Regions from separate parts of the Homo sapiens genome. Here regions 1, 2 and 4 are each linked to region 3. Evidence: fine-mapped expression QTL. A gene starts in region 3. Each other region holds a variant in brackets. All regions are shown on one strand. Distances are between the middles of the regions.

Region 1 (8,108 bases), 140 kb after region 3:
GCTCTGTTGCCCAGGCTGGAGTGCAATGGCGCGATCTTGGCTCACTGCAACCTCCACCTCCTGGGTCCAAGCAATTCTCCTGCCTCAGCCTCCCAAGTAGCTGGGATTATAGGCATGTGCCACCATGTCCGGCTAGTTTTTGTATTTTTTTAGTAGAGACAGGGTTTCCCCATGTTGTTAGTCAGGCTGGTCTTGAACTCCTGACCTCAGGTAATCCGCCTACCTTGGCCTCCCAAAGTGCTGGAATTACAGGTGTGAGCCACCATGCCTGGTCTGTTTTTGCAGCATTTTCAATTAATCTCAGTTCCTTTATCTGTAAAAGGGGCATCAGCAGTCTTTACCACGTTGTGTGAAACATCCTGGTGACACAGTTGGCTTGGCCACTGTGAAAAGTCATAGCTCTTGGGTGGAGCATTACTGTAATATACTGCCAAAGGCCCTTTTCAGTGCTGATGTTTCATAATTTCAATATGTGGTCAAGCCATAAACGAAAATTATGTAGGGCTTTTGCTTACAATCTATGTTTTCCTTTCTGTCTGATGTTTAATTTTGCTATCTCTGGAAGACACATTGGGGAAAAAAAATACACTGTGTGTATGTGTTTCATTTGTCTTAGAGCACACTCTTTCTTTTTTGCCTATAACAGAGTAAAACCAAAGACAGTCTCCAAGAGTGATCACTATGACTAGAATCCTAGTAAGACAGGGGAAAGATCAGAGAGGAAAAGAAGCTGAAGTTAGATGCAACCGGAACAGCCAAGCTTGAAAGAGGGGAGGCATACGGGTTGAGGAGCCCTTCACCATTCTGAGAGGTGCTAAAATGCATTTCTCCCAGAGAGTACATGGATGCTGGATACAAAATCTGTTATTCCGGAGGCTTGAGATATAGAGAGGTAAGATGCTTGGTACAGCTGACAACGGGTGAGGACAAAGAGGGGAATAAAGATGTGTAAATTGCTCACACTTGGCCTGTGTGGCCCAGCATTTCTTCCAGGACTCAAGAACAGATGTACACTTGATTTAACCAAGCCCCACATACTTCTTCCCACAAGAAGAAAAACCCCTATGAATTTCTCTTCTCTGTTCATTCCCTCTTTATTTTATTCAATAGAACGTTAAATTTTGCCTGAGTAGAGGTACGCAGTCACATAGATGAGTCTGCTTCATCTCTTCTGATGGCAAGAGGCAGTATGTGGGAGATGAGAGCAAGAAGAAACAGCTTTTGATTAATATTTCAGTCACAGGACAGGAATTCAGCTATGATGAAGGTGTATTACGGAATAGCTGCCAGACAAATATATTTTGTCATTTCATCTTGAATCATCTGGCATCAGATTCACACTGAATCAAAATTCAGGTGATTTATAAAGGCACATTAAGTTCTATTAGTATTAATGGGAAATATGCATGTGTATCAATACATGCATTAGTGGAGACAGATTCCCTGAAGGGTTTTTGCTTTGGGGCGAAAGCTACTATTTGTGCCTTTTGCACAATGGAAGTAGAATTGTGCCTACTAAATAAGTGTTCAATATCGATGCCCAGCAGAAAAAGGCCTTATTTTTAAAGATGCAAATAAAACGGTATTTTATATTTGTAATTAAAGGTATTATAGCAAATGGCCACATCTTATTACTGCTATTTAGAATTTGTCATTTAGGATTTATTCTTATTAGTAACCGTATTCAGTCAGTTTCTATATAGTTGAAAGAGTAGTTGTTTGGTCCTTTATTCCCATGTCAAAGATGAAGAAATAGGCAAAGTTTGGCCTATTTGATTTATATAGAAAGGCATTCCAGAAGTAAAATAACAAACAGTGTCAGAAAAGACAGTTTCTCCAATTCACAAAACAAGAAAAAGCTAAACCTATCCCCTGTTCATTTTCTGGGGGCAGGGAAGCAAAAGTTTAAGTCAAGTGAGACGCAACAGAAATGCCATGATTTATTACACTTTTATCAATAATAATGATGTCAGCTGCTAAGCAAAGAAAAATCCAAAATGGCTTAACCTCCTAGGAGGTTTATTATTTCACAATAACAGTTCTGCTATGCTGTTAAGGACCCTGTCCCCTCTTCCTGTCCACCATCCAGAGGTCGTGCCTGTACTTCAAGGGTGACAAATGGCTGCTGTAGTTTCTGACTTCATTGTGAACCCAACAATGCCAATGGAGGGAGAAGGATCATGTCCTATGCATCTCTTTTTATCAGTAGGAATGTTTTCCGAATAGTCCTTTAGTAGACTTCCCTTAGCATCGCACTGGCCAGCATTAGGTCATGTTCCTCTTCCAAAATCATTAAGTGGCTAGAGAAGAGAAATTCCATGATTGGCTTAATCAGTTTTACCAACCCATCTCGCGAGCTCCATATCATGTTGCCGTCCTGAGCTTATGGTCTCCCAGAAGAGGCTGGGCACCACACCAAACGGGGGCTCAGCTGATGAGGAAGCAGGAAGAGGTGGGGCAGGAATGGATGGGTGGTCATCCACGTGTGTGCTCCACAAATGTGTGCCATTGCTGTGATCCTTAAAGGTCTGCTTAAATGCAGTCATGGTCTCTGAGGCCTCACTGGACTGATGAGAGAGCGCCAGGTTTTGTCATGAATTTAATTCAATACCATCAGATTCACAGACTTGAATACTAAAGTCTGGGGACTCAAGCCAGCTCAAGCACAGTTTCTGAGCTTAGCAGGTAAATGACAAATGACTGAGCAGACGGCTTACACTGAACCTGAATCTTGACTCTGACTCACAAATGTTTTAAAAGGGACAAAGAGGAGAATGTTCAGGAAATAAAATATTAATACAGTTTAGATGTTGGGTATTCTTGCATAACTGAAAAGCAGGGGCAAATGAATCCATCTCTTCATTCTGTCTGTGTCTGCGCCATCCCAACATCTCAAGGCAGCACATGGGGCTCCCGTATTCTCTTTGTGTGTCCTTCTGTCATACCTCCTCCCAGGGCCTTCTTTCACACTAAAGTGTAAACAACTAATAACAGCTTAAGTATCATCATTTCACTAATAAGCTTGGCTGTGTGGCATAATAGAACTGAGGGAAAGGGAAATAATTTTAGAACTGTTCGGGATGGAGATCTAGAAACTAAGAGGACAGTCATCAGTCTAACTCACAGCATCCAGAGCTGCCCCGTTCAGTGTGGTAGCCACTAGCCACATGAGTCTATAGAGTTTACATTTAAATGATTTAAAATGAAATAAAAGGAAGAATTTAGTTCCTAAGTCACACTGGCACATTACAAATGCTCAGTAGTTACTGCTCCTATTGGGTATACTGCGCTGGCAAATGCAGAGACTGGACATTTCCATCAGCATGGGAGGGGCCAGGGGACAGTGCTGCTCTGGAGGACATGGAAAATCAGGGTGGGACAGATAGTGCTGTTCCCAGGAAAACCCAATGTAATGGGATGCTTTGCCAATGCTTAATTTGGTTGGGAAGGTCTGGTTGGCTCATCCATTTTGGAGCAGTAGCCTGGAGAGGGGCCGGGTGTCAGTGGGTAGACAGTGAGCAAATAAAAAACTTTGAACAGAGGGGGCACATTTGTGCTAGGGATTGACCCAATTATTAACTCCACAGGGAACACTAGAGGACAAGGCTGAGGACAGCAAAATGCCTGGAGCTGGGTGGAACATGAACAAGCTGAATGTTTTTTAATGCATAATGTATTTATGTTAATTTGTGTGTGTGTGTGTGTGTGTGTGTGTGTGTGTGTGTGCTTTGAGATGGAGTCTCACTCTGTTGCTTAGGCTGGAGTGGAGTGGCACGGTCTTGGCTCACTGCAACCTCCACCTCCCAGGTTTAAGCGATTCTCCTGTCTCAGCCTCCTGAGTAGCTGGTATTTCAGGCACCTACCATCACCCCTGGCAAATTTTTGTATTTTTAGTAGAGATGGGGTTTCACCATGTTGGCCAGGTTGGTCTCAAACTCCTGACTTCGGGTGGTCCACCTGCCTTGGCCTCCTAAAGTGCTGGGATTACAGGCGTGAGCCACTGCACCTGGCCTGTTAATTTGTATTAATGTAAATTTTCTATTTATGGCAAGTTATATTGGCTTTATGCTAGTGACATTACATTTCTTAAATATACAGCTATCAAAATTTCAAAGGAAGTAAATTTGAAGAAAAATATTAGATGAAAACTAGTACTAGTGAAATGCAATATGGGATAAAGTTTCATATGATTTGCAAAAGACTGAGCTTTGAGAAACCCTGATTTAAGGCAACAAGATCCATTATGAAGGTATGTTTCTAGGTGGGGCTGACTTCTCCATCAGGTGCTCTAGGCATAGCACTGACAGCTGGCATGTTTCTAGGCTTAGTAGGTTAATGACAATACAGCAAGGGCCCATGAAAATGTATTAATACATTTTCTCTTTAATAGATTAAGTCAGGAAAAAAATAAATGGCAAAGAAAATCTTTTAATTATTTATCTTTATGCTGACATTTGTAAAGTGCAACTTTCTATATATATATTTTTACAGAGGAAGGGGTTCTTGAAGGCAAAAGTGCCTAAAGCCCATGAAAATCATAAGGCAGCCTATTCCTAGGCAAACCGGGAAGGAACCTCTGAGGCAATGGAATGCAAAAGGATAGAGCTCGCTCAGCTGCACCCACAGTGGGTAGGGGTGGAGATGCTGGATTTGAGCAGGAGGGCATCAGTACAATCAGAGAGCAATGCTCCATGTGTGCTTATCTGCTAAGTATGGCACAGGCTCAGGGCAGGTCAGCAGACAGGGTGCCCAGGGTTCAGTCCAGGCCCACCAGACAGCAGGGTTAGGATAGTTGGATTAGTCTCCACTTTTGTGATGACTACCTGTTGGTCAGAATTGATTGGGGAGTGGTGGTCA[G/A]AGCTGAGTCTTCAAGGTGAAGTTCTTCTGGGGACTAGGGAAAGGCAAGGTTGGGAAGGGCAGGATTTAGGGCATCCTCTATTAGGAAGACCTATTAGGACTACTTAGCACTGACATTATAGGGGTATAGAGACAAACACCTACTTGGCCTGAGTCAGGCCAATTATGATGATAAGAAACACAGAAGTGAGAACCAGAGACACACATAATGCAACCCCTAAATACAAAAAGGGACTTGGGAATGCTGGCAGATATTGCTTTTGGAAAAAAGAAGTTTATGAAAAAATTATCTAATGCACCCTGAAGGCAAAGGCTGATGGGCAACCAAGCGCAAGGCCCAGTTAAGGCTGACCCGAGACCTCTTGACAAGTTCTGGGACGACAGAGGTATAAGAACCATTTCAAGTCGAAGGAGAGTGGTTAAAGGCCAGGTATGCGGACCACTTCTATAAGATCTCATAGTTGCTCTCTTGTTGCCGAGCGAGGCGAATGACATTGATAAATCGCCCCATTATAACTGGTGATAAAAGCAGCAGGTACTTAAAGGACTGACCAATAGACATCTGAAAAGACAAATGACTGCTTGAAGATGACTGATACAAGTTGGAAATTAGCGATACCCATTGTGAGGAGAACAGGACAAAGCACGCTGGACAGAGATAATACCCCAATCTCCTGAATGCTCATTGATGTGGGTCACCTGACAGCCTTCTCGGAAAAAAGTCTTAATTACTAAAAACATATGTGAAAACACCCTGAGGACCATGATAGCTCATGCAAATGTAAGGTATTATTATGATTCAACCAACTGAAGTGTTGAAAATTAAAGCAATTTTATATACTTTCATTTGGGGCACAAGTTTTGGGGCATTCGGTTAGGACTTTTTTTTTTTACTAAATGGTCTGGATACTTACTATAGTGATGTGTAGAATCAGCATAAACAGTTTTTTTTGTTTGTATTTTTGTTTTTGAGAAGCAGTTTCACTCTCGTTGCCCAGTCTGGAGTGCAATGGCATGTTCTTGGCTCACTGCAACCTCCACCTCCTGGGTTCAAGCGATTCTCCTACCTCAGCCTCCTGAGTAGCTAGGATTACAGGTGCCTGCCACCATGCCTGGCTAATTTTTGTATTTTTAGTAGAAATGGGGTTTCACTACATTGGCCAGGCTGGTCTTGAACTCCTGACCTCAGGAGATCTGCCTGTCTTGGCCTCCCAAAGTGCTGGGATTACAGATGTGAGCCACTGCACCCAGCCAAGAATTTTATCTTTCAAAAACCTCCAACTTTTGGGGGAGACTCAGAATGACTATGCAATGAAAAAAGTCTTGCAGATAATTCTCCCCTGTGAAATTGGTCTCTTTTGTACTGTCGATTGTGGTGGTTTCTATACAGTAGCATCCAGCACCTATTCCGCAAACCACTTCCTTCTTAAACCTCAAGGGTTTCTGCAAACCGCATTCAAATGATCTGTAGAAAGCGTTACCCTACACTTTCCATTACATCAGAGCCTTGCCGAGCGGCCCGAGAGGGATTCATCAACTGCTGCTGTGTCCCCATGTGTCTGATTAGCCACAAACACATAATGAATGTGGTTCAGCAGTGTAGGAAGCCGCAGTGGAGAACTGCAGCAAAAATTCCCGGCAATTTTTCTGGCAGCTGTCATCAGTCAACAAAACCCAAACTGACACCTTCAGTTGCCAACAGTTTTGGGTAAAACACATGCATGTTCCCAAGGTACAAGGGCCACAGGTTGAGAGTAAGGTTAAACGATAGAGTTTCTCTACTGGATGGAATGGAAGAAGATAGCAAAGTGAGCTTTTGTGATATTAATAAAGAACCTAATGGATTAATGGAAGGGACTGCTATGTAGGTTTCTGGTGAGTAACCGGTGATGCTGTGAAAGCTACGTGTGGCATCCAATAGTTAGCCCATTTTTACTTCAAGAAAACTCATCCTCGTGCTCTGCAGCAGCTGCTACTGTTTGGATTATGAATAGTTATACGCCAGATGGTGTGGCAGAAAGGACTCACACATATTTTCACATGGACAAATATTATTATTCCAAAACATAAACACGTTAATATAAGTGTTTTTTCTCCTGGGAGAAATCCAGCCCCTGATCTCAGTTATAAGAAAATGACTCAGTCTGTATATGCAAAAATTACCTGCCAAGGTTATTATTGGAAGAAACCCACACCACAGCGTTCCCCAAGTTTTCCTTTCCTTATTTGTAGTCAGCTGCATTTAATGTGATAAAGGAGAAACAGAAAGGAAGGGAGGGAGAGAAGACGGGAGGATGGAAAAGAAGGAAGAGGAAGAGAGTGAATGAAGACACGAGGTAAGGAAGGGGAAAATCACTGTCCCTCCACCCCAGAATTCTCATAATGGTGACAGCAGTGTGTTGGCCTGGGAATTATAATGCCAAATACCTGGTGACCAAAACTAGAAGGCAAAGATGGAAAAGATGGAATCAGGCCATTTAGACACATCAGTGAAAGATTCTTCTGAAGCATACTTCCAGCTCTTTCTCTGATTTTATTTGGAATGTTTCAAGGACAAAGAGTCCATCACAGTCAAGTCAATATAGTTCTCATAACAATGTATCCAGATTTCCCATTTCTAAATTTTTCTTAATTTGGTCTTGTTACTTCTTGCTGTCATTTCAATTTTTCTATATTCTTTCTTTTCTGTTTTTTGTTTTTGTTTTTTTTTTGACACAGCCTTGCTCTGTTGCATAGGCTGGAGTGTAATGGCACAATCTCTGCTCACTGCAACCTCTGCCTACCGGGTTCAAGCGATTCTTGTGCCTCAGCCTCCTGAGTAGCTGAGATTACAGGCACATGCCACCATGCCTGCCTAGTTCTTGTATTTTTAGTAGAGACAGAATTTCGCCACGTTGGCCAGGCTGGTCTGGAACTCCTGACTCAGGTGATCTGCCTGCCTCGGCCTCCCAAAGTGCTGGGATTATAGGCATGAGCCACTGCTCCTCACCTTATATTCTTTCTTTCCCCAGAAATTCCTATAATAAGCTTTTCTTCACAAGAATCTTCCACTCTTGGTGCCAGACATTTTGTAATCAATCCTAAACCCTCCTTCTTTATCTCTCTTCCTGCTAAGCCTTGGTCATTGCCTTCCAAGACTTCTTGCCTAGTTTTCCAGCCTCCCGGCAGCCCTCCTGTCTCCTAGCAGGGTAGACCAGCCCACCAGGGCTCAGGGAGGGCAGACCTGGGGTGATGTGTGCAGGAGGAGATGG
Region 2 (8,108 bases), 160 kb before region 3:
TGAATTATACCTTTGAATTATACTTCTTTGTACCTTTGAATTAATGCTATTTTTATTTTTCTAGAAAAATCAAGATTTGGAGGTGTTTGTCACTGACAAATCACAAACCATGGCAACCAAGTCCTTCTTTTCCATGATCATTTTTTGGACGCTAGACAAGATAGATGCGGCACAATTTATACGAAGAAAAATGCAATATAAAATCCAGGTCATCCAAGGTGTGTGTGTGTGTGTGTGTGTGTGTGTGTGTGTGTGTGTGTGTGTGTGTAATAGAAAATTAACCTAGAAGTCAGCCTAGAAGTTACTTGAGTTCAACAACCTATCCCAAGAATGTATTGCTGCATCCATGATATTGATGGAGAGGTGTTGACTTCTCACTTCCTACTGAGTCCAGAGGAAAAAAGCGTTGTGAAATATTTGCCTTTAAAAAATTCTCTCCAGCTGTTTTAACACAAAAACGCTGTAAAAGGCTTGCATTTCTTCTAAACTGGAGAGTAAATCTTGAATTCCTCATGTCATATTTCTCTTTTTAAGTATATTCCACTTCCCAAATGCTGAAAATAACACAGCATGTCTTTCTTTTTTTTTTTTTTTTTTGAGATGGAGTCTCGCTCTGTCTCCCAGGCTGGGGTGCAGTGGTGCGATCTCAGCTCACTGCAACCTCTGCGTCCTGAGTTCAAGCGATTCTCCAGCCTCAGCCTCCCGAGTAGCTGGGATTACAGGCACACACCACCATACCCAGCTAATTTTTGTATTTTTGTAGAGATGGCATTTCGCCATGTTGGCCAGGCTGGTCTTGAACTCCTGACTCTCAGGTAATCTGCCCGCCTCAGCCTCTCAAAGTGCTGGGATTACAGGCATGAACCACCATGGCTGGCCAGCATGTCTTTTTATTCAGGAAATACACCACCAGGGATGGGGGCTTGAGAATTTTTATATTTATAAACATAAAAAATATATAATTTTTAAATTCAAATACTATGTATATTTTAAAAGAAATCTTCCTATGTGAAAAACTTCGTAGAAGATAGAGGAAATCTGCATTGTATATAAAATAAATGACTGATTCTAAGAAATAGGTTCAGCACTGTTATAGAACAGGTTTTAAACTAAAGTTAAAAAATAAAAGTATATATTCACACACATTCAAACATGAGATAGTGTGGCCTCCCCTCCCTTGTCCCACCCTGGGTCAGAGTTAAACAGATCATCTTCTCAGTGAGAAGGTGAACTCAATCATCTGTATGACAGCTCCTCACCAGAAAACCTTCAAGAGAAAAAGGCAACTTATCCCACCAAAAATTGTGGAAAAGTGGATTTCCAATATTGTAAACAGAAACATTTGATTTCCAGCCTCTCCTCTGCAGATTTTTTTCCAGCAGAAAGCCCATATGGCTCAACTTTTAATTACTTTGGCTAATGCTATATGTAGTAATTCTGTGGTGAATGCTTAAGTGTTTCATTTCTGGTTTCCATAGCAACATTACATCAGATTGCAGACAGCTGGCTCCACAGTTTTAAACCATAACAAATTGACCAAGCCAAGACACAAAACTATAGCTGCTTTAAAGAGATAGCACACCATTTGCCGGCCAGGCCACTGAATGAGGAACCTATGGGGCCCGTCTGGCACCCGGAGGAGGGTGGAGCCTCCTTCCTTCCCAGCTTCTTTTGGAACAAGTGCATCCTTGACACATCTGCAATGTTCTAATAGGAAAGACATGGAGCCAGCGTGGAGAACTTTTTATAACACAGCTACACGCTGGATGATCAGAAAAAAGGAACAAAATGAATAGCATCTGTGAGTACAAACATTTGTGTGCCGGAGCTCACTAAATGCATCCTCTCCCTGCTCCAAGTAAACCTGTCACTGCTGGTCGGTAACAGATACTTCACCGGACCCTGTAACAAACAGTTCTTGGGACTGCAGTGTGCAGAACAAATCCTTTCCAAAAGCCATATGGCACAGTTGTGCAAGCACAATGGCAATATGCTGTAATAAAGGTTAAAACCAATTTGCAAGGAGCAACTAGACCCTTTGGAGGACCGCTTGAGACCACCACGCTGATCACAGGATTACAACTGTGCCCTCTGCAGAAGCACTTTCACTCAGCTTGTTTCCCTAGCTCGAAACACACGACACGCTGTCACAATTAACACCCAGACTAAGCCCACTCATCTCCCCCAGCGCCACGTAACACCGAGAGATATTTAAACATTTCTGAAAAGCAATTTGAAACTGGAAATGTACTTGCCTGTGAAATTCACACACTGGTCTCTCTAACCTAGCGCATGATTAGACATACATACTTCAGCTTTCTAGGTCGGCTGTGTCACAGCGTTAATCTTAAACTTAAGAGAAGGAAGCCAATCAGATATAAGCTTATGAAAAGCAATGTGCAACACTGTCTGAATTCAAGTCCTCCCCAGGAAAAGCCTCCACAATTCACAGCTGAGCCATATATGCTCATTGTCTCAAATTCTCAAAACAATACTCACTATTCTCTAAAAGTTACGCATTTTCACTGGTGAAAATGCCAGGCAAAAATGCTCAGGGTTACCAGGTAGGGAAGTAAACAGGCGAAGAAGGACAAATCTAGAGGAATTTAAGAAGAAAAGAGAGAGAAACATCATAGGCAGGAGCAGCAAAAACTTTTACTTGAAGCAACAGAAAACACATTCTTTCTTTCCCATTGAACGCATTCAGTGACTTACCGGCTTCGGCATTTAGCAAGCCTAAGGGGTAATTCTGAAGACGTCCTGTACCTCCCACCCCCCTCCCCACTCGGAGAGCGTCTTCACTCTTGTAGCATCAAACTCCGCAATCTCAAAATTAAGATTAGGCACTCCTGGAACATGTCTCTCTGGAGTTACATGATCAGGCAGGCTCCACCGTCACAGCTCAGTATCCGAAGGAGAAAGGGGAAGACACTGGATTCAATTAGCTTCTTTCTGCTTGCTGACTGATTCCCCAGTCGCTTGCTAACTGCATAACTCGCAAGAAAGGCATAAGTCATCAGCTCTAAGCAAATCTCCTATTCACCACAAGGAAAAAAGGGAGTGTTGTGCATGGCCAACAATCCCTGTTTTCACTGAGGAAGGCTCCCTGACCTCCTGCTGGCCTCCAGTTCCTTAATTACTGTCTATGGAATTCCAGAGACAGAAAAAAGAACGCGAGAATCTGAGCAAATCCAGGACAAGGAGGACAAGGACTAACCCTTAAAAGTGACTGAACTTAAAAAAAGATCTCTTTTTCAGACATTCTTCTGAACACCCCCTTAAGGGAGCAGTCTCAATTGAAAATAGACACCTTCCAATGGCTATTTTTGAAATTACTGAATTAAAACTTATGATTGTGGTTTTCTCCTAGAGTTGTCACTTTCTCTCTCTCTCCCCATTCCTTTTTAAAATTTTAACAACCAGGGTAAATGTAGGATATTTCCCCTTCATTGGTGCTTCTAAAGCTCTCTTAACAAATTGTTTTAATGCCCATTTCAGAGCATCCGAGTTCTCCTGCATTCTAGAAACGTGAGCATGAGGACCGTGTCACAAGATGATTATTTAATTTTCTCAAGGA[C/T]CTCAGGGGAGCCACTAGGCACATGCTGTTACTTAAAAAGAACATCATCTAAACAACACAGGACTAAAAACCCACACAAAGTCTCCATGACGTGGGCTGCAAGTCACGTTTGTCTTTTCAGGGCTAAGTTCATTCACTTGGGTAAGTCATTTATTCTCACAGCACAATGTGAGTTGCTTGTTTCTAGATGTCCCTCCTGTTGGGTGAGTCTTCATGTATAATGCTCTTTATAGGACATCACACGACATAAAATACCTAGCTACACAGGACTCAGGGATGCGTAGGAACCACTGTCCCTCCTTAAAATGGCAGAAGTTTAGAGTTGGACAGGATTCAGAGGTTACCTAAACTAAAAACGGCCAGGCACAGTGGCTCACGCCTGTAATTCCAACGGAGGCGGGCAGATCACTTGAGGCCAGGAGTTCGAGACCAGCCTGGGAAACATGGTGAAAACCCGTCTCTACTAAAACTACAAAACTTAGTCAGGCGTGGTGGCATACACCGGTAATCCCAGCTACTCAGGAGGCTGGGATAGGAGGATAAATTGAGTCCGGGAGGCAGAGGCTGCAGTGAGCCAAGATCGCCTGACTGCACTCCAGCTTGGGCGACAGAGCGAGACTCCATCTCAAACAACAACAACAACAACAACAACAACAAAAGGGAATTGGAATACGAAGCTCCCAAGTGGAGGGTCATGTTTTACCACGCACACATTGCGGGTTCTGCATCAGATCACCAGAGCTCCATCCCCTTTTCCTCGGCTCTTGTCCTGCTCTTCTTCCCTGGGCGGGCTGGCGTCTCTCACTCCTTGCCAAGAATTAAACTCCCTTCTCCCACTCTGTCTTCTGCTCAGAAGTATCTCCTCCCAACCTTTATTGAATTTCCTCTTCTTTCTCCTGCAAGGGTTCACCACACCTTCCCTACACTGCCCAATTCCCCATTTCACAAACTGATTCTCCCACAAACTCCCCTTCCCCTGCCACCATCTGACGGACCAGGTGCTTTTGCGATGTTGTACTTCCAACACTTGTATTTGTCCAAAGCTTAGCATTCCCAGGCACTGTGCTAAACATTTGCATACAGACCCCATTTCACAGCAATGGCAGGGGCAGAATCTGAGACTGTATGGTTTTGCTCCTGTGCCACTACCCTACCTCAACAAGACCTTTCTTCATCCAAGACTGACAACTATGCTGCAAAGTTATGCTCACAGTTCCTTAAAACTGAGTGTAGACATTTTCCACCAAATTCCTTCGTTACAGGATAAAAACGAAGAAAATGAGAGTGCCCCAGTGAGACTGGGGTAAAGGGAAGAGGATTAGCCCAAGGTCTCAGGGGTTAGAAAAACCTGGGTTTAATTACCAAGTTCTCTAGCAAATCACTTTACTTTTATGGGTCTTAATATTCCTGCACATAAATGTGGTATAGTAGCACTTTTCTTACGTTGTGGTTGTATTAAATACTGCGTACCTGAAATCCTTACTGAACTGGAGTTCAATAAGGACTTAATATTTTTACTATTACTATTAATATTATTATTTGAGATGGAGTTTTGCTCTGTTGCCCAGGCTGGAGTACAATGGCTTGGTCTCAGCTCACTGCAACCTCCACCTCCCGGGTTCAAGCAATCCTCCTGCCTCAGTCTCCCAAGTAGCTGGGATTACAGGCACCCGCCAGTATGCCCAGCTAATTTTTGTATTTTTAGTAGAGATGGGGTTTCACCATGTTGGCCAGGCTAGTCTCAAAACTCCTAACCTCAGATGATCTGCCTGCCTTGGCCTCCCAAAGTGCTGGGACTACAGGCGTGAGCCACCAAGCCCAGCCTTATTATTAACTCTGCAGTCTTCTATTCATAACTCACTGGAGTTCAAATAACACCTAATTTTCACAAACTGTTCTTTTAGGTGCTGTGTAAATAGCAAAGACCACTTAAAAACCCAACAACCAGGCCGGGCGTGGTGGCTCACGCCTGTAATCCCAGCACTTTGGGAGGCCGAGGTGGGCAGATCACGAGCTCAGGAGATCGAGACCATCCTGGCTAACACAGTGAAACCCCGTCTCTACTAAAAATACAGAAATTAGCTGGGCGCGGTGGCTCACACCTGTAATCCCAGCACTTTGGGAAGCCAAGGTGGGCGGATCACGAGGTCAGGAGTTCGAGACCAGCCTGAACAACATGGTGAAACCCCGTCTCTACTAAAAATACAGAAATTAGCCATGTGTGGTGGCACATGCCTGTAATCCCAGCTACCCAGGGGGCTGAAGCAGGAGAATTGCTTGAACCTGGGAGGCAGAGGTTGCAGTGAGCTGAGATCATGCCACTGCACGCCTGGGTGACAGAGCGACACTCTATCTCCAAAAAGAAAAAAGAAAAAAAAAAACAACAACAAAAAAACCCAACAACCAGCCAGGCACAGTGGCTCATGCCTGTAATCCCAGCACTTTGGGAGGCCAAGGCAGGCAGATCACTTGAGGCCAGGAGTTCAAGACCAGCCTGGCCAACATGGTGAAACATGGTCTCTACTAAAAATACAAAAATTAGTCAGGCATAGTGCACATCTGTAATCCCAGCTACTCAGGAGGCTGAGACACAAGAATCGCTTGAACCTGGGAGGCAGTGGCTGCACTGAGCCGAAATCGTGCCACTGCACTCCAGCCTGGGTGACAGAGCAAGACTCCATCTCAAAAAACAAAAACAGAAAAAACCAACAACCTTTTTACGTGTGAAAGCTTGTCATATGGCCAGCATCTGAGGCTGGTTCTGGACAGGCTGTTCAGATATAGAGAAGACTCTGAGCCAATGCAGGTTCAGATCCCCTCTGTGCCACATGGGAAGAGCCTGTGGCTGTGGGCATGTTTCTTCTCTCATTTCTAAGATAGGCAGTGAGAAGCCTCCTAGGGCTCTCTAGAGGATAAAATGAGACCTTGAATGTGAAGTCTAGAGCTTGGCAGGTAAGGAAGCCCTCGTTCCATGTGAAATACACATGAAGTTCATGCACTGATTTATCCAGATACTTTGGGGAGGGTGGCGGGAAGGATACATCCCCAGTACTTCCCCTGAGCGGCCTCTCCTCACAGCACAGGACTTGGAGAGTGTCCTAAGAGGATGGGAGAGAGAGCCGACCTTGTCCACCCCTTTTTAACCTCACTGCCACGCCTCTCAGGGAGTCATTCAGGTATTTATCAAGATACTCGATGTTGGGCCCTTTGTGAGGACGTACCATGGCTTGACTTTCAGAAAACAGGAGGCTCCCCGGGCCAGGAGCCTTGTCTGATCTCCTGCTCCTTGCATTCCTAGTGCCCACCCATAAATACTGGTGCGATCACTGTGGAATGAAGAAGTTGAGACTCCCCAGCCCTGTGGCTCTCAGCCCTGGCCATGTGTCAGAGTAAACTGGGGGATATTTGGAAGACTAGACTGAGCCAGGCCACCCTAGGAAGCTCCCTGGTGAGGGACAGATTGGGAGATAGACTTTGTGAGGGAAGGCCACTGCTGGTCCTGTTCTCTGGGTGGCGGGCTTGAACACAGTAGATGTGCAAATTTGCTGAGAAGGGACTTCAGTATTTGACTCCTATGGTGAGGAATTGGTCCTCATTAGCTCCTTGGAACAAGGTCCAAAGGCCTTATAGTGGAATATGTGACTGTGTGCGGTCAGATTCAGTTTCTGGTACATTGTGCTCCACTCTTCAGATACCACGTGGTAGAAAGGGCACCAGAGCACCCGGTCTCACCCCCTGCTTCCTTGCAGCATCTCAAACACCCCATGCCCATCACTGCCCTGATGGCTCATCTTCTGCAAACAGCTCTGCTGATTGCATCCACACCCCTAACTCCTATGCATCCTTCAAGTTTCAGTCTGCATATTGCCTCCTCTGGAAAGCTCTCCTGGCTTTGCTCCTCATCTACCTTAGACTAAAGATACTTTATCCAAGGACTTCACACATATATTGGCATTGCTAGATTCCCTAGCCCATCACTAACTGTCATGCAGACAATGTACATGACCATATTCATTTCCACATCTGTATGTTAGTAGCATTTATTGTTTCTGACTACACATGACATATATTATTAAAAATTTGGAGAATGCAAAAATGCACAAAGTAGTAAGAGAAATGACGTATCATCCCATACTCAGAAAACTTGGTAATATTTTGGTTTATGCCTTCCCACTTTTTCCCCATACACACACATATGCACATGCACACACAAAATACACCCTGATGTTTCTGTATGTTTCTTTTTTTTTTTTTTACAAGAAAGGGTTATCTTTGATCTTTACCTCCTCCAACTCCTCTAGTCACTATCAGTGTCCCCAAATCCTCCCTCAAATGCACACGCACAGTCTAAGTAGAAATAACACATTTGCCTGTAAGTGGGGACCTTCTCTGGGTCACGGCTGCCTCAAAAGATTTTCCTTTAGAGAAACCCCAGGCCCCTGGTGTGCACCGTAGCCACACTGTTTCATAGCCCATTTTTTAAAGCTGTATGTTTTGAATATTTTCGCATGTCAAGAAATAGTCAATACAA
Region 3 (8,108 bases):
GTTAACAAGTAGATTTAAAGGCTTCTAAGGCTTTGCCTTAGAAGTCCTCAAATCCTGTAGGCAGAAGCTGAAGAACCATCACAATTTACCAAATGGATAAATCAGTTCTGAAAAAAGGATCTACCACACCTAACTGTATCAACAACCTTAGCAATTCCCGCTCTTAAAAACAACTTCCCTCCCCTACCTAAAAAAAGGAATGCCGTGTCTGCCAACTATGGAGTAAAGAAAAAAGGGTAAAATTCCACAGGATTCTAACTCAGTTTTGCACTTCTCAATAGAAGTCTACACATGTCACAGGGAGAAGTGACATGCTTTGAAAACCCTGGCCTACCACATGTCGTGGTGTTAGTGAACAGAATGGCACATTTCACAAGAACGCCAAGGTTTAATAGCTCAGGGCTTATAAACATGTTGCAGTTTACCATTAGTTTCCAGTGGAAGCACTGGGATTTTAATTTGCACGATGAAACTGCCCAAAATGCAGTTTCAGCCAGAGCAGAATGTATTCACATCTTTATAAATGTAACCCATTACATTACAGCAGGCACATGTGTCTTGACAGAACAATGCTTTGATGTGACTCCTGCATTTAAGAAATACATACTTTTCCCCTTTTTCTTTCAACAAAGCCATGTTCTCAGCACCCAGTTAAGTCAGGAGCACTGGAGATAGAAAAATGAGTAAGACACTGACCCTGCCCTCCAGGCACTCACAATCTAGTTAATTTTTTTTTTTTTTTGCAAGCTTGTTTTCTCTTAATTCTATATCCATTTATATATTCACTTATTAGCATTTATTTATTCTAGTACTGCTCAAACATTTTCATGCCGTAAATTATACTATTATTTCTTTTCTAAATGAGCACTTTGTTAACAATTATCTGAAAGCAACTATTTGGTGCTTAACTGTGCATGGACTGAATTAATCTAAATGCAAAATGTGTCCTAATGAACTCAAACAACCATCCTGTATTTACTGAGATCCATGACTCTGGGGCAATACTTTCACTGGGTTATAACCAACAAAATCCCCTGGGGGACAACTGCTCAATATTGCTCATTCACCTAAAAATGTTTTCACTTACTAAGCTGTGAGTTTTGTCATTTCAAAGTTCCACATACAGTATTGATAAGCTGTGTGGTTTGATTTCCACAATTAGAATAATCTGAAAAAGTAAGGTAGAACTGTGTCTGAAATCTGTTAAGGATAATGTTCAGATGTGTAATTTCCCAACTACCTCTACTGTCCTCTTCAAGTTCAGTACGGAAAAAGAATCTTGTAAGTCACATTTTACCTAAAACACACAGGATTTCTAAATGTACTGAACTACATTTCTACTGAATTCATCTGAGAGTTAACTATGGAGCGTCATGACATCAGGATCCCTACTGGAGGGGCCAGCGACCAGGGACAAGTCTAACATTGTCACTAACATGGTATGTGCCATTGGCCAAGTCACTTCACCTGTCTAGATTGATAGATGATTGCAAAATCTTATATTTTAAATAAAAAAGGAAGGAAATGGTGTCTCTTGTTTCAGTGAGAATAAAGTCAACTGTTAATTTTGTGTCTTGATGTATTTCCCCGAAGACTCAGTTTGTATAAACACTTGGATGACAGCTTTCCCTCCCTTTTAGCCTGGTGTCTCCCTGCAAGACATCTACAAAGGAGCAGTAAGCCATGTCTTCCTCTGAATTTTACTAAGGAACAATCTCCATGCCTGTTTACCCCAGATAAACAAGAGGAAAACATGAGCAAACACAACCTGTCTGGGACAGGCTTTACGTTCTTCCCAGCCTGATCCTGAATGATTAGCTGAAGTACATATTTTCTTTGCTCCTGCATCTGCCCTTTCAATAGCAGGTTTGAGCTTCTGAAGCCCCACCCCATCTTTTAACTCAGCCAAAGAACACTCCACTACAACTGACCCAACAGTGCTGGAATCTGTCAGGGAAGGGAAAGCAAATCTGCAGAAAATGCCACTGGCCAACCCTCTTCCCCAAAAGAACCCTCAGCCCAAGTTTCATTTAAACAGGCCCCCAATCCTCCCCGCCCCCAGCCCAACGCCCTAGAGTAAGGGATACAATGGGATATTATCAAACCAATTTCCTCAGTGACTGAAAACTTAGAACTGGATCTAGACAAGAAATAACAGGATAACTTAAAAACAGTCTATCGGGCGCGGTGGCTCACGCCTGTAATCCCAGCACTTTGGGAGGCCGAGGTGGGCAGATCACAAGGTCAGGAGTTCGAGACCAGCCTGGCTAACATGGTGAAACCCCGTCTCTACTAAAAATACAAAAATCAGCCGGGTGTGGTGTTGCGCGCCTGTAATCCCAGCTACTCAGGAGGCTGAGGCAGGAAAATTGCTTGAACTCAGGAGGCGGAGGTTGCAGTGAGCTGAGCTCGTGCCACTGCACCCCAGCCTGGGCGACGGAGCAAGACTTCGTCTCAAAAAAAAAAAAAAAAAAGAAAAGAAAAAGTTTATCACAACTTTAAAATGTCCATTAGGTTTTCTGGAACTTCAGTGAAGGATCATATTCATCTGTATACTTCAGAAAATGCAAAAACAAAACCTTTTAAATCTAAAATATATATTAGATTTAGGTATATTATATACATGTGCTATATATAGTATGTAAATATACATTGCATGCATATTTATATACATTTTTCAATACTGGAGAGTGACAAGAGCAGATAGAAATCTTTAACCAACGCTCGCTGGTTCTCTGTATAGTAAGAATCATAAATACCAATGGTCACCTGAAAATGGAGTAACTGGGCTTTTAGGATGTCCAGAAGGAAGAGACAGGAGACTTTGCAGGAAACAAATAAAACCTGAAAGACAGCTACACTTATTGAGCCTCTACTATATGCTATACAGTCTGCTGAGTACTTGATACACACATCAACCCAGCTAAATCTCAGAAACCCCAAGAAGCAAGTCTTCTTTTCTTCAATTTTCAGGTGATGAAACTGAGGATCAGAGAGGTTGAATGACTTGGCCAAGATCATGTAAACAGTCAATTGGAGAGCTGGCATTTGACCTAGTATAACTTACTTTGAAGCCCAAGAGTTTAATCACTGTGCTAAAAACTGTACACGGTTTATCATTCCCAAAGAAGAACTTTCACTCCATCTCCTCCCACTCAAAAAATATAAGATCTCAAAGCAAATCTAGAGACTTTTCTGATAATCTGCACATCTGGCCATTCCAAGTCTTTAAACTAAAGTTGTCTTTTATGTATGGATTAAGATGTCTGACTGTAATAAACCTCGCCCATCTGATTCCAGTCTACCTGCCTAACTACAGCTCCACCAAAGCAAATCTATTACTTCCCCAAGGTATTCAACCCTGAGCAGGTTAAAACTTCACCCTCCATACAGAAGAACTGCTTCCCAGAGACTATGCCAAATCCAGGGGCGCTTTTAGTCACTGGACATTTCAAAATACATGACAGCACAGATTTAGCAAAATAAGTCCTATTGTTTTAGCCCCAAACATATAAAACAAATATCCTGTAACTCCACAAATTGAAAAACTGCAAAAAAAAGTAGGCAAACATTTTGGCAGTTCTGAGTAAGGAAATGTTTGTTTTCCCTCTTGTGGTCACACAACAAATGGTGAAGAGATAAACATCAGTAACATCAGCCTTTTCCCTAATCCAGCACCAACCAAATATTTATTTACATCTACTTTTTGAAGGCCTCTTTCTCGCCTTTTCCACACCAACATGTCAGCAGGTGTCCCAGATTAAACTGTTGAATATCATACCCGATTGTTTAAAAAACACCTTTTGACGGGACCTGTGGCTGGTTATTTTTTAATTAGGGTTTGAAATCCTATACTGTGTGTATTTAGCCCCCTAAGAACTAGAGCCAGAGAAGGACGCCTCTGCGGAGTGGGTTGCCCAGTGGGTGGGCGAGAAGGGAGCCCCCGGTTTCAGAGGGGCTGCTGCGAACTGTACTTCCTGCGCCGCCCCCTCCCCAGGTAACTTACCAGGATACCCATCACGTCGGTCCAGAGTCGGGAGAACGCCTCGGATGTGCCAGCACCCGGCTTGGGCTCCGGTTCCGGCTCCGGCGCGGGCTCGGGCTCCGGCTCGGGCTCGGGCTCAGGCTCCGGCCCCGGGCCAGCTGCTCCCGCGTCCTCCATGGCCGTGTCCCGCGCGCGGGCCGTGCGTCCCAGTCCCCGCGGCGCCCTCGCCCCGCACCCGCGCGCAGCCTGCCCGGATGCCGGGTCCCCGCCCGCGGCGTCACCGAGCCGCGCCCCCGCGCTGCATGCCCCGGCGGCCCCGGCCACCCCGCGGGGGCCCTTCGCAGGCGCCCGCACCTCGGGTCTAGGTGGCCACGGGCTGCGCGACTGACAACTCCAGAAACTTTCCCACCCCGCTCGGCGCAGCAACAGGGTAGCAGGAGGCAAAGTCCGCACCACTGAGTTGTACGGCGGGGAATTCGCTCGGCCCAGAAGCAATTAAACCCACTGCAAAGGCGTTTCTTCCTGTGACGGGAACCAACTAACTAAGGCACGCGACTCGTTCCTTCTAGCAAGTCTTGGCAGGACCCGGCAGGGGTGGCCGCGGAGCCTCTAGATCTTGGAGGGAGCTCCCCGGGACCCCTCTCTTCAAAATGAGCTCTTCCAGCTCCACATGACTCTCTCCCTCGAGGCTAAAGAAAGCGTTTAGCAACAAAAGGTGCTCTGATGTCAGGCTCTTTGCATGGAAATGAGCCTCGGACAGGAGAACAAATCGCCTGTTGAAAGAGCAGCCGCGCCGCGGTCTCCGGCCCGCACAAGTTTCCAATCACGCTATTCACGGAAACGCTTTTGGTAACGGAAACCCGAGAAAGTTAATCTTTAAGCGACTCCCGCCCAAAGGCTTCACAAGTAGTCCGTGTCGCTACAATGCATACCTCGCCCCTCGTGAAGTCAAGCGACCCAAGGAATTACAAATCCTGCCTCTGCCAGCCAAGACTTCTCTGCAAAACAAGTGTGAAAGCTTGGGCACGAGCCATTGTTTGGATCATTTTTTATGAGTGGGGGCATTTTGGCTCCTGAATGCCCACAATGCCATGCATTGCTAGGGCTTTCGGCTAATTAAGGGAAATGCGCTTTGGGTTTTAATTATTCCTTTACATTAGGGACACAGGGAAGGGCTATTTTCGAAACTAAATTCAAATGATTGTGTAGCCAGTCAGCCTACACACACTTGGGGCCCTGTGTGTGTTTTTCCAAGGGGAAGCCCCAGGACAGATTTATTTTATAAGGGAACTAGCCCTGGAGAGGTGATTTTTCCCTTTTGTGATTCTATCTTTCAAGACTACTCAGAGTTTTCCTTGGAAGGTGACAATGCACGTCACATTCGATTTGGTGATTGATCACTTTTGAAACAGTTAAGAAACCACATGGAGTTTGCTCCTCTGTTAGGGCCTTGTGGTTTAAAAGGAAAAAAAAAAGTGAGATGCCCCAGGGAGAGAGCCCTGCTTGTTTTGAGGCCTCTCCTGTTTCTTGTTGATTGTGGGGTTTTTTTTGTTTGTTTGTTTGTTTTGTTTTGTTTTGTTTTGTTTTCCTTCTGAGTCCACTTGAAAGGGGATAAGAGCATGTCCTTGAATTCCCCTTGTTCAAGTATTAAGTGCTGTGAGCACCAATCAATGCAATGGGTGAATAGTCCTTACAGGAAAGTTCAAAATGTAAAAACATTTTCAAAAGTAACTAAATTTATAAACACAATCCCTGATAATTTTTGTGTGTTTTTGGCGGGTGCGGGGCTGGCGCCTGTAATCCCAGCACTTTGGGAGGCTGAGGCGGGCGAATCACTTGAGGCCAGGATTTTGAGAACAGCCTGGTCAACACAGCAAAACCCTGTCTCTACTAAAAATACAAAAAAAAAAAAAACAAAAAAAAAAAACAAAACATAGCAAGAGTGTTGGAACATGCCTGTAATCCCAGCTACTCAGGAGGCTGAGGCAGGAGAATAGCTTGAACCCAGGAGGCGAAGGTTACAGTGAGGTCCTGCTGCTGCACTCCAGCCTGGGTGACAGAGGAAGACTCTCTGTCTCCAAAGAAAAAAAAAGTATGCTGAAAAATTTTTTTAGAGACAAGGTCCTGCTCTCTCACCCCGGCAGTGCAGTGCTGCAATCGTAGCTCACTGCGGCCTTGAACTCCTGGGCTCAAGCAATCCTCCTGCCTCAACCACCTGAGTAGCAGGGACTACAGGCACACCGCTGCACCAGACTAATTTTTTAAATTTTTTATAGAGACATGATCTCTTGCTGTTGCCCAAGGTGGTCTCAAACTCCTGGACTCAAGGGATCCTCCCTCCTTGGTCTCCTCAAGTGCTGGGATTATAGGCATGAGCCACTGCGCACAGTCTCTGACGATAATGTTTGTGAAAGGAAACCAAAAGAATTATTAAATTTCTCCTTAATAGCATTGAGGCATTGTGTTGAAGTAGAAAGAGCACTGAACTATGAGTCAGTACAGCCAGGTCTTGTGCTTTCCTAGGCTGATGCCGGAGTTAGGCCAGATGGGTTTTCAAGGCTCCCTCGTGCTCTGTGATACTTTGAATAAAAATAAATTCAGTTAAGGCTGATGAGGTTTTTTTAATTGTCATTTCTATAAATAGATAAATATAAGTAAATGATAGGAAAAGATAAATAGCCTTTACAGTTGACTGTATTGGTATATTTAAGAATTTGAATTTATTCACCACGTGATACTTTTTTTTTTTTTTTTGAGACAGAGTCTTGCTCTGTCACCCTGTCGCCCAGGCTGGAGTGCAGTGGCACCATCTTGGTTCACTGCAACCTCTGCCTCCCAGGTTCAAGCGATTCTCCTGCATCAGCCTCCTGAGTAGCTGGGATTACAGGCATGCACCACCACGCCTGGCTAATTTTTGTATTTTTAGTAGAGACGGGGTTTCACCATATTGGTCAGGCTGGTCTCGAACTCCTGACCTCATGATCCACCCGCCTCAGCCTCCCAAAGTGCTGGGATTACAGGCATGAGCCACCGTGCCTGGCCTGGTACTTTCTTAAATTTAAGAAGATGCAGAGGACTGTGCTGCTTCCAAGGGGCAGCCTGTTCTCTACATAAACACTTTCCAGCAAATAACTCAGCAAGGAGCCAGGCAAGCCGGGCAGTTGGGGCTGGGGTTAGGATGAAGCCTGACTCTCCAGCACCAATCCAGAATCATTTTCTTCTTGACTCATCAGATGACCTGGGGCAAAGCATTTGACCTGGTGCTAGTTTCCCCATCCAAGATGAGGCAAGGCCATACTAATGGCCACCTGCTTCTTCACAGGTTATAGTATGTTTCAGGGTCATCTAAAGACACGTACAGTTTAGTGACAACACATACCCGCATCAGTGTAATTAAACGGGCCGGGCATGGTGGCTCATGCCTGTAATCTCAGCACTTTGGGAGACTGAGGCAGGCACATCACTTGAGGCCAGGAGTTCGAGACCAGCCTGGCCAACATGACAAAACCCCATCTCTACTAAAAATATAAAACTTAGCCAGGCATGGTGGCACACACCTGTAGTCCCAGCTACTTGGGAGGCTGAGACAGGAGAATCGCTTAAACCTGGGAAGTGGAGGTTGCAGTGAGCCACTGCACTCAGCCTGGACGACAGAGCGAGACTCCATCTCAAAAAATACATCTATATAGATATTTATATAGATATCTATATTTATAATTATATATCTATATATATACACACACATATAATTAAACCTTAGCCAGCATTTTGGCACTTATAGAAATCAACCTATTCTAGATATTTAAGCTGTTTTTCCTGGTGCTTCTTAATCAATGGATAGGGAAATGAGATAATGTTTTGGGAGAAATGTTGATGCCTATACATAGAATGTGAAATTTGAGGCCAGGCATGGTTACTCATTCCTGTAATCCCAGCACTTTGGGAGGCCGAGGCAGAAGGATCATCTGAGGTCAGCAGTTTGAGACCATCCTGGCCAACATGGTGAAACCTCGTCTCTACTAGAAATACAAAAATTAGCTGGGCATGGCAGCATGTGGCCTGTAGTCCCAGCTACTTTCTACTTATCAATTTCCATGTGTTAACTCAACATGATCTGATTACC
Region 4 (8,108 bases), 38 kb before region 3:
TGTATACATTCAAAATGCACAGCTTTTCACTTATCAAGCATACCTCAATAAAGCAGTTTTTAAAAAGCCATGCTCTTTCAGGACTGACAGTGTTTGCATTATTTTTATTCAGCTTATTCCTTGAGATAGCTACAGACCTACTCCATAAAAATATTTAATTTTACTAAAAATACTTGCAACATGAGTCTGCAGGAAATTTAAATAATGTAGATGAGGTTTCCATAGGATCGCATGCTGCCATCTTTACGGAAACACAAAATCTACGTCTGACTCAACACCCCACCATACTAATGTCAAGCACTGATGTTGCAAAATAAACTTGTAACTATAATAAGACTTAAAATCATCTCTACATTTATTATAATAAATATCATGATTAAAACACTGAAACGGATTCTTTTTTAAACCTTTTCTTTTAAGGTGTTCAAAAGTTTCTGGTCTGGAGTTTATTGCTTGCCTCATCTGTTTCACTTCTTTCTTATTTTCCCTCTTTGGTTCTCTGGCATTAAACTTAAGCAATATTAGTTCAAGTTTAGGAACATGGGAAAACGTTATTTCCTCAAAATAATTTTTTGAGAAAATTGTGAAATTTTGAGTCACGCGATCTTTTTATAAGAATTTTCCCACCCCTGTCTTTGAAAACAGGAAAAGAGATACATGCAGATTCAAGTTCTCTTTCCTTTTCTTCTCATAGAACCTGGTCACAGCATCTGTCCATATGTATGACAATCCATTTCACTTGCTGAAGATTTAAATTAAATCTGTGGAGTCATCACCCGTGTCAGCTCAACGGACAACAAACTTGTATAATCTTCCCCCAAAGCCACAGAGCATCTTTGTCCCAAACACCCGTCTTTCATACAACCAACATAAAAATACAGAGATAAGGGGCATTGTACCGAGCAGTTCAGATTGGGTGGACTGCTGTTGCAATTAAGGAGAAAAGACACAGAGCACTGTTTCCTCAACAATCGGTTTCACAGTATTTCTGAGATTTATCCCAATTCACTTCTGTCTCTGGAAAATGGAAAACCTAAAACTACTAGGAAAACAAAAGGCATTTGTATCGTTACTTTTGTTATTTCTGCGCTTCTTTCCCCAGATGTCACTTCCAGTTTAGAATAAGTTGACAGATTCAGGAGAGGAAAAAAATAAAAAGAAAAAAAAGCATCTGAAAACATCAGGAGATACAATGTGATCTGTTGCATGCAGATTGTATGCAAACGAATGTGTGATCCTCCTATTTTATGTATCTATAAAGTTTTCCCCAAGGGAAAACTCATGTGTGTTGCTCTAACTCCCCAAAGTTGAGAGAAAGACAGACTGCTGACTCCTTTATTGTTTCTTTACCTTTTCCGTCCTTAATAATAAGTACATATATTTTTATATAACATAAATTCTGTTATATTTACATTGCTCCTTGTTTGAAGAGGGATGGATGGAGATATATACATCCCCTCTAAGCTAAATCCATTAAAAAAAGAAATCACTATGGTACAATGAAACCTAACTGATTTTTTGAATGACTTCCCAAGGTGTTTTCACCCTTAATTAGCTTGTTTAAAGATTTTTAAGGTGATAAACACTTTTAGCAACCTTTCAGGTGAAATTGCTACAACCATAAAAATGTCTTTAATTCTCGTTTTCTTGTTCGGCCTCATTGAATCCCTGTAATGTTACTGTTCTCACCAGCTCTGTCATCACTTCCTGCCACGTCGTCGTCGTTCTGCAGACATTCACTGACTGTAATAACTAATCTCAAATACTTTTCTGAGGTATCACTCCCAGTGTTTCTACAGATGGGTTGAGCTGGAAGTATACTTTGTCTCAGGAAAAAGTTTTAACGTGTAACGACATATGCCAGAGGGACGTATTAGGTCATGCAAATGGCAAGTGAAGCCCCCAGGGGCACACCCATAGGGCAGGTGGCTGGAGTGAGGCTTATTTCATACCTTCCATCCCCTCTCTCCAAAAACACCCAAAACCTGCCAGCACCCATGTCAAATCCTGGCTTTGGCATATACGGTCATGGTGATGCTATTGCGCACAGGTGGATCCCGGTTACCACAGATCCCCTCCTGAAGAATAAACGGCCTCCCAGAAGGCAGGATTGACAAACCCTCCTCCTCAGAGCTCTCTCAGCACCTGCTTCTAGGTCTCCAAATGTCTAAGGAAAAAAATAGCAGGAAAAAAAATTGGGGGGCCAGGCACGGTGGCTCATGCCTGTAATCCCAGCACTTTGGAAGGCCAAGGCAGGTGGATCACCTGAGGTCGGGAATTCGAGACCAGCCTGACCAACATGGAGAAACTCCGTCTCTACTAAAAATACAAAAATTAGCCAGGCGTGGTGGTGGGTGCCTGTAATCCCAGCTACTCAGGAGGCTGAGGCTGGAGAATCACTTGAACCCAGGAGGCGGAGGTTGCAGTGAGCCAAGATGGCACCATCGCACTCCAGCCTGGGTGACAGAGCGAGACCGTCACACTCTTCACAATGGACCTGCACACATGGCCGAGGACACAGAAGGCGGAGATCTGGCGGGCTCTGGAGCTGTTGTGGGTTCAGATGCTGTCTCATGCCAGCAAGGTAAGCCAGCAGATCAGTGACACCATGTGGAAGCTGCCACAATGCCTGGCATCCTACACCAACCTTCAGAGTCAAAAAAATATGCTGCTGATTCACTTCCAGCTCCCAAATCTCACACAAGGTGTCTTTTGTAAAGGTCGCTAACCCAGAACCATACCAGAAAGGGTGAACGCAGTACAATCCCCCACAGAGTCTTTGGATAAATTTAAACATTTGAGACTTGCATTTGTTTAAAGGATATCACATAGCATATTAGAAGAGCACAGAAGAGGCTGGGCACAGTGGCTCACACCTGTAATTCCAGCACTTTGGGGAGGCAGAGGTGGGTGAATCACTTGAGGTCAGGAGTTTGAGACCAGCCTGGCCAACCAAAATGGTGAAACCTCATCTCTACTAAAAAAATTACAAAACTTAGCTGGGCGTGGTGGTGCATGCCTGTAATCCCAGCTACTCAGGAAGCTGAGGCGAGAGAATCACTTGAGCCCAGGAGGTAGAGGC[T/G]GCAGTGAGCCAAGATTATTGCGCCACTGCACTCCAGCCTGGGCAGCAAAGCAAGACTCTGTCTCAAAAAAAAAAAAAAAAAAAAAAAAAAGAAAGCAAGAAAGGCACTGATGGAGTTCGCTTCCTAGGCAACAGCCATGGGGGCCCACACTGTCTCTATTTTAGAACCCCACTGCCTGTGAGTTTCCCTGTCACCATCCACCCCTCCTCCTCAGCACACCCTTACATGCAATGATTCCCCAAGGTCCTCTGCATTTTTCTCTTCTTACACTCCCTGCTCCCTTGGGGAAATGTCATCTGTGGTAGGACAGAGTTAAAGTCGCGGCAGAAACACTTTCCCTCTCCTCTACTTCCAACAGGCCCAGTGCAGCCTGCTTGACCCTAGGATTCGGCAGGCTTGAGACTGGTAGCAAAAATGTTATTACCAAAATCTTATGCATGAACTAGTCATCCCCAACTACCTACTGGGAAGAAATCTGAAAAGTTTAGTCTAAATATGAACAAACTCAGTTTCCTGGCCAGGCAGAGGAGCAGCTCTAATAAAAGAGATGACGAAGAAGGCCTACTCCACATCCCTCATGCGGAGTATATGCTAGCACCTCTGCACAGCACAGTGATTTTCACGTATGATGAAGAAACTGAGGAAAGCTGTCAACATTCGCCTGTGTTTATGCCCTTCAATCATCAACAGTTCACAGGATATTTCATTAATTCAAATAATATTTACTAAACATCTACTATATTCCGAGTGTTGTGCTAGGTATTAAGTATCCAATATAAAATCAAAAAACATGAATGTTTATTTCTACTGCACAGAAGAGCAAAGTGTGGCCATTAGTTTATTTTAATGCAGTCATACGGTTAAGTCATGAGAACTTGTTGAAGGGATTTACTAAGCTGTGTGCTTAATATTAGATCTCTTTGGAACGAAAGGCTCTGAAAAATCCAATCTGCTGGCTATCAGTGGCTCAAAAGAGTATTACACAAAAACCCTAAGAACTTGAAAATGTGGAGAAAAGAATGGGAACATTGATCATTGGTTTTTAGAAAGTACAAGCCTAGATTCAGACTCAAAATGGACATTTGGATTTAGCAGATGGCAGTTTTAGACTGAACTCATTTTCCATTTTTAATCTGCCCTGAGCTTAACAGAATCACAGATTTGAAAAGCAGCACAGATAATTGGGTGGGAATGAAGTCACAATTATAGACCACATTCACAGATCTTGATGAGCATGAATCACACTGGGTTTTCTCTGGCCGCCTTTTTGGCACACAAACGTGAGGCTGTGAACATTTTCAAGCATTTGACCAACAAGATCTGAATGTGATATGACCAGAATTTTAGAAATGAAAATATTGATCTCAGAACAATCTGAAATTTCTAGTACTATGGTTAAATGATGTACAATATTTGAGTTTTTGTGTTTTAGAAAAATTATAATCTGCCACAGCTTGACTAGAGAGCCTCGCGGTGTGACCGTCTGTGGTATGAGACTGAGCTTGACTCTGGCTGATTTCCTCACACAGCTCCCCGGCGCAACTGGTAAGTGAGACGCAGGAGTCCAGACAACTCAATCAAAACTGACTGACAACAGGCATGACGCTGGTAACCCTCTGCTTTTATACAGCTAAGGTTGAAGCAACTGTTTCTTGGTGCTATTGCCAAAACTCCACATTTTTAAGAACTGACAGGTAACAACTGAAAAATACTCTTTGTGTGGCACCTACGTTCCGCATCTCACAAATGGCTGCACACGATATCCAGGACTTGCTTTAAAATCCTGGGCCTGGGAGGGGTGGTGAGTGCAGATATAGATGGAACAAGATCAGCGGTGATGGAACATGGCAGCTCTTTAACATATGCTCCCCACTTGGTATACATCTGAAATTTCCCACTGTAAGGAGTTTTTAAAAGGTGACTTATTTGTTTACGTGTTTGTTGTTACCAGGCAACTTTAGAGTTTATGAAAACTGGGAATGGATCTTATTCATTTTTATAACCTCAATATCTAACATTATTGCAACACCCAACACTTAGCAGTTACGTAATAAATACTTATCAAATGAATGAACAGATGGATGGATGGATGGATGGATGGATTGATGGATGGATGGCAGTAAAGTTGATCCCTCTCTTTCCTGAGAGTGCCATAAAATTCACTCGGTAACTAGGAATTGACAGACTGCCCGCTAAACCAGCATTTTTATATATAATGGTGAGCTTCTAGTCACGATTCTTGTCCCTACTGACCTCACAAGAGTAATACAGTCTAATGAGACATTGATACATGAAATATATCATTAGAAACAATAACAAACGAAGATCTGAGGGAAGGGGGTAGGAAGAAGTTCCATACAGAGGGAATATCAAATGTAATTCCTCTGAGTCCAGAGAGAGAGCTTAACATGTTCCAAGAGGTAAAGCTACCCTGGGTGACTAAAAGGTCAGAATGCAGAGGTGTGGCAGGACAGGGGACTGGAGAGACAGGAAGAAACCCAGGTTTGGTGATTCCTCATGAATTCAATAGCCATAGATATTTAAGCAGGAATATAGAGGGCATGCACTTTGCTTTAAATAAAGTACGAAACTCGCTGTCATACACTTCAATGAAAACCAAACCACAGAGATTTTGAAAACTGTGACCCTGATTTCATTAACTTTGCACCCACACAAAAACCTCTCAACAGAACATACAGTTGGCACCTGTGAATTGATAGTGCCTTGTCCCTCACCAGCTAGAAAAACCAAACTAACAAATGGGGATATAATCCTAGAAGCTCATCCAGCCCTTGGCCAGCTCTGTTTCATTATATTTTTGTCCAGCTGTGAATCTTAATGCTGCTGACACCAATAAAGTGAACCATTAGCATGGTGTCTGCCTCTGTGATCCTTGACAGCAGACCCAGTCCCACCTCTGTCATGGAAGAGGCTGAACAGTGAAGACAAGATCTAAACCCACTGGGATGTTATTCCTCTTTACAGGTATGGCCACAGCCCAACAGGAAGAGAAAAGCTTCACAGAATAAGGGTGGCCTACATGAGAAAGAATTATCAACCAGGCACGGTGGCTCACGCTGATAATCACAGCACTTTAAGGCAGGCGGATCACTTGAGCCCAGGAGTTTGAGACCAACCTGAGCATCGTGGTCAAACCCCAGTTCTACCAAGAAAAATATATAAAAATTAGCGGGGCATGATGGCACACGCCTGCGGCCCCAGCTACTCAGGAAGCTGAGGTGGGAGGTTCAATTAAGCCAGGGAGGCAGAGGCTGCAGTGAGCCAACATCGTGCCACTGCACTCCAGCCTGGGCGACAGAGTGAGACCCTGTCTCAAAAAAAAAAAAAAATTGTGGCCGGGCTCAGTGGCTCATGCCTGTAATCCCAGGACTCTGGGAGGCTGAGGCGGGTGGATCACCTGAAGTTGGGAGTTTGAGACTAGCCTGGCCAACATGGTGAAACCCCGCCTTTACTGAAAATACAAAAAAATTAGCCAGGCATGGTGGCGCATGCCTGTAATCCCAGCTACTCCGGAGGCTGAGGCAGGAGAATCTCTTGAACCTGGTAGGCTGAGGTTGCAGTGAGCCAAGATTGCGCCACTGCACTCCAGCCTGGGTGACAAGAGCAAAACTCCGTCAAAAAAAAAAAAAAAAATTGTGGGTGACAGAGAACTCCAGTCAATGGAACAGGAAGTTTGGCATCTGAACCCTTCTCTCTTTCTCTGCTACTTACTGACCCAGAGTAAGGTAGTTAAATGTGTACGGCCTCATTTTCCTCATCTGTAAAATGGTAATTACAAAGCTACCCCACAGGCTGTAATAGGATTAAATAAAATACTTGTAAACCCTTGACAGATCATCTGGCATTCAATAAGCACTCATGAAATAGAAGTCCTCACTCCTCCAACAGGAAGGTTAAAATTTCTCCTATTATTTGATGGGACCAAGTTATATCACATGAGTGGCACAGAATTCCAACCTATTATAAAAATAAAGATCTAGAATTTCAATACAGGGAAGGGCCTTAAATATGATCTCATTTGATAACTTTATTTCAAAGATGAATTAAGAGTAACCAAAGACCACAGGGTTTTGAGTGACTTGTCCCAAAAGACAAGAAACCAAGCCTCCTAAATCAGAGTACAGGAATTATTGATTTCTAATTATTTACATTTATTGCTGATAATTTTTAACATGTTGAGAGTCAAAGATCTTCCTGAATCCAAAGATATTTCCCACACCAAAAGGAATAAATGGAAAGTTCCTGGGTTCAATGGGCTTAATTAAAGTCTCACAATCTTCTCATATCCTGACAGAAAAAAAGCAACTAAGATTTTAAAATAAAGATAGCCCATCTAGAAGGGCACTGAATACACAAGGAGCTTATCCAGAAAATCCTCAGCATTTTACTACCATCAGGGAGACCAGGAGGAATGCCACTGGTTCCCTCCACAGGTTTGAGTTTCATCTTTTGTGTTTTTTTTTGTTTGTTTGTTTGTTTTGTTTTTTTTTTGTTTTTTTTTTGTTTTTTTTTTTTTTGAGACGGAGTCTCGCTCTGTCGCCCAGGCTGGAGTGCAGTGGCGGGATCTCGGCTCACTGCAAGCTCCGCCTCCCGGGTTCACGCCATTCTCCTGCCTCAGCCTCCCAAGTAGCTGGGACTACAGGCGCCCGCCACTACGCCCGGCTAATTTTTTGTATTTTTAGTAGAGACGGGGTTTCACCGTTTTAGCCGGGATGGTCTCGATCTCCTGACCTCGTGATCCGCCCGCCTCGGCCTCCCAAAGTGCTGGGATTACAGGCGTGAGCCACCGCGCCCGGCCGAGTTTCATCTTTTGTTTTTAAAAACAGGATCTCATTCTGTCACCCAGGCTGGAATGCAGTGCTGCAACCACCGTTCACTGTAACCTCGAATTCCTGGGCTCAAGTGATCCTCCCTCCTAAGGCAGCCTCCCGAGTAGCTGGGACTACAGGTCACGCCACCAGGCCCAGCTAATTTTTTGTATTTTTTGTAGAGATGGGAGTTTCA

The links. PIP is the estimated chance that this variant, and not a neighbour inherited with it, causes the effect.
Region 1: its variant is fine-mapped to the expression of SASH1 in whole blood (INTERVAL, PIP 0.92).
Region 2: its variant is fine-mapped to the expression of SASH1 in breast (GTEx, PIP 0.96). The same link has a PIP of 0.9 or more in subcutaneous fat.
Region 4: its variant is fine-mapped to the expression of SASH1 in whole blood (TOPMed, PIP above 0.99). The same link has a PIP of 0.9 or more in blood mononuclear cells and monocytes.

The regions. Positions count from the first base shown.
Region 1 is chr6:148,202,412-148,210,519 of GRCh38, reverse strand. It overlaps a transcript of SASH1 not described here. Among named protein-coding and RNA genes, the nearest start is that of SASH1, 140 kb to the left of the region's middle. The variant G/A (reference allele first, on the strand shown) is at 4,858.
Region 2 is chr6:148,503,485-148,511,592 of GRCh38, reverse strand. The region is part of intron 8 of SASH1 (SAM and SH3 domain containing 1); the gene reads right to left. Among named protein-coding and RNA genes, the nearest start is that of SASH1, 160 kb to the right of the region's middle. The variant C/T (reference allele first, on the strand shown) is at 3,578.
Region 3 is chr6:148,339,122-148,347,229 of GRCh38, reverse strand. It overlaps SASH1 (SAM and SH3 domain containing 1), which reads right to left and starts at 4,392. Exons shown (of 20, transcript NM_015278.5): 1 at 4,007-4,392. The coding sequence starts at 4,162. RefSeq lists enhancers at 1-317, 5,166-5,745.
Region 4 is chr6:148,376,683-148,384,790 of GRCh38, reverse strand. All of the region lies in intron 1 of SASH1 (SAM and SH3 domain containing 1), which reads right to left. Among named protein-coding and RNA genes, the nearest start is that of SASH1, 38 kb to the right of the region's middle. The variant T/G (reference allele first, on the strand shown) is at 3,083.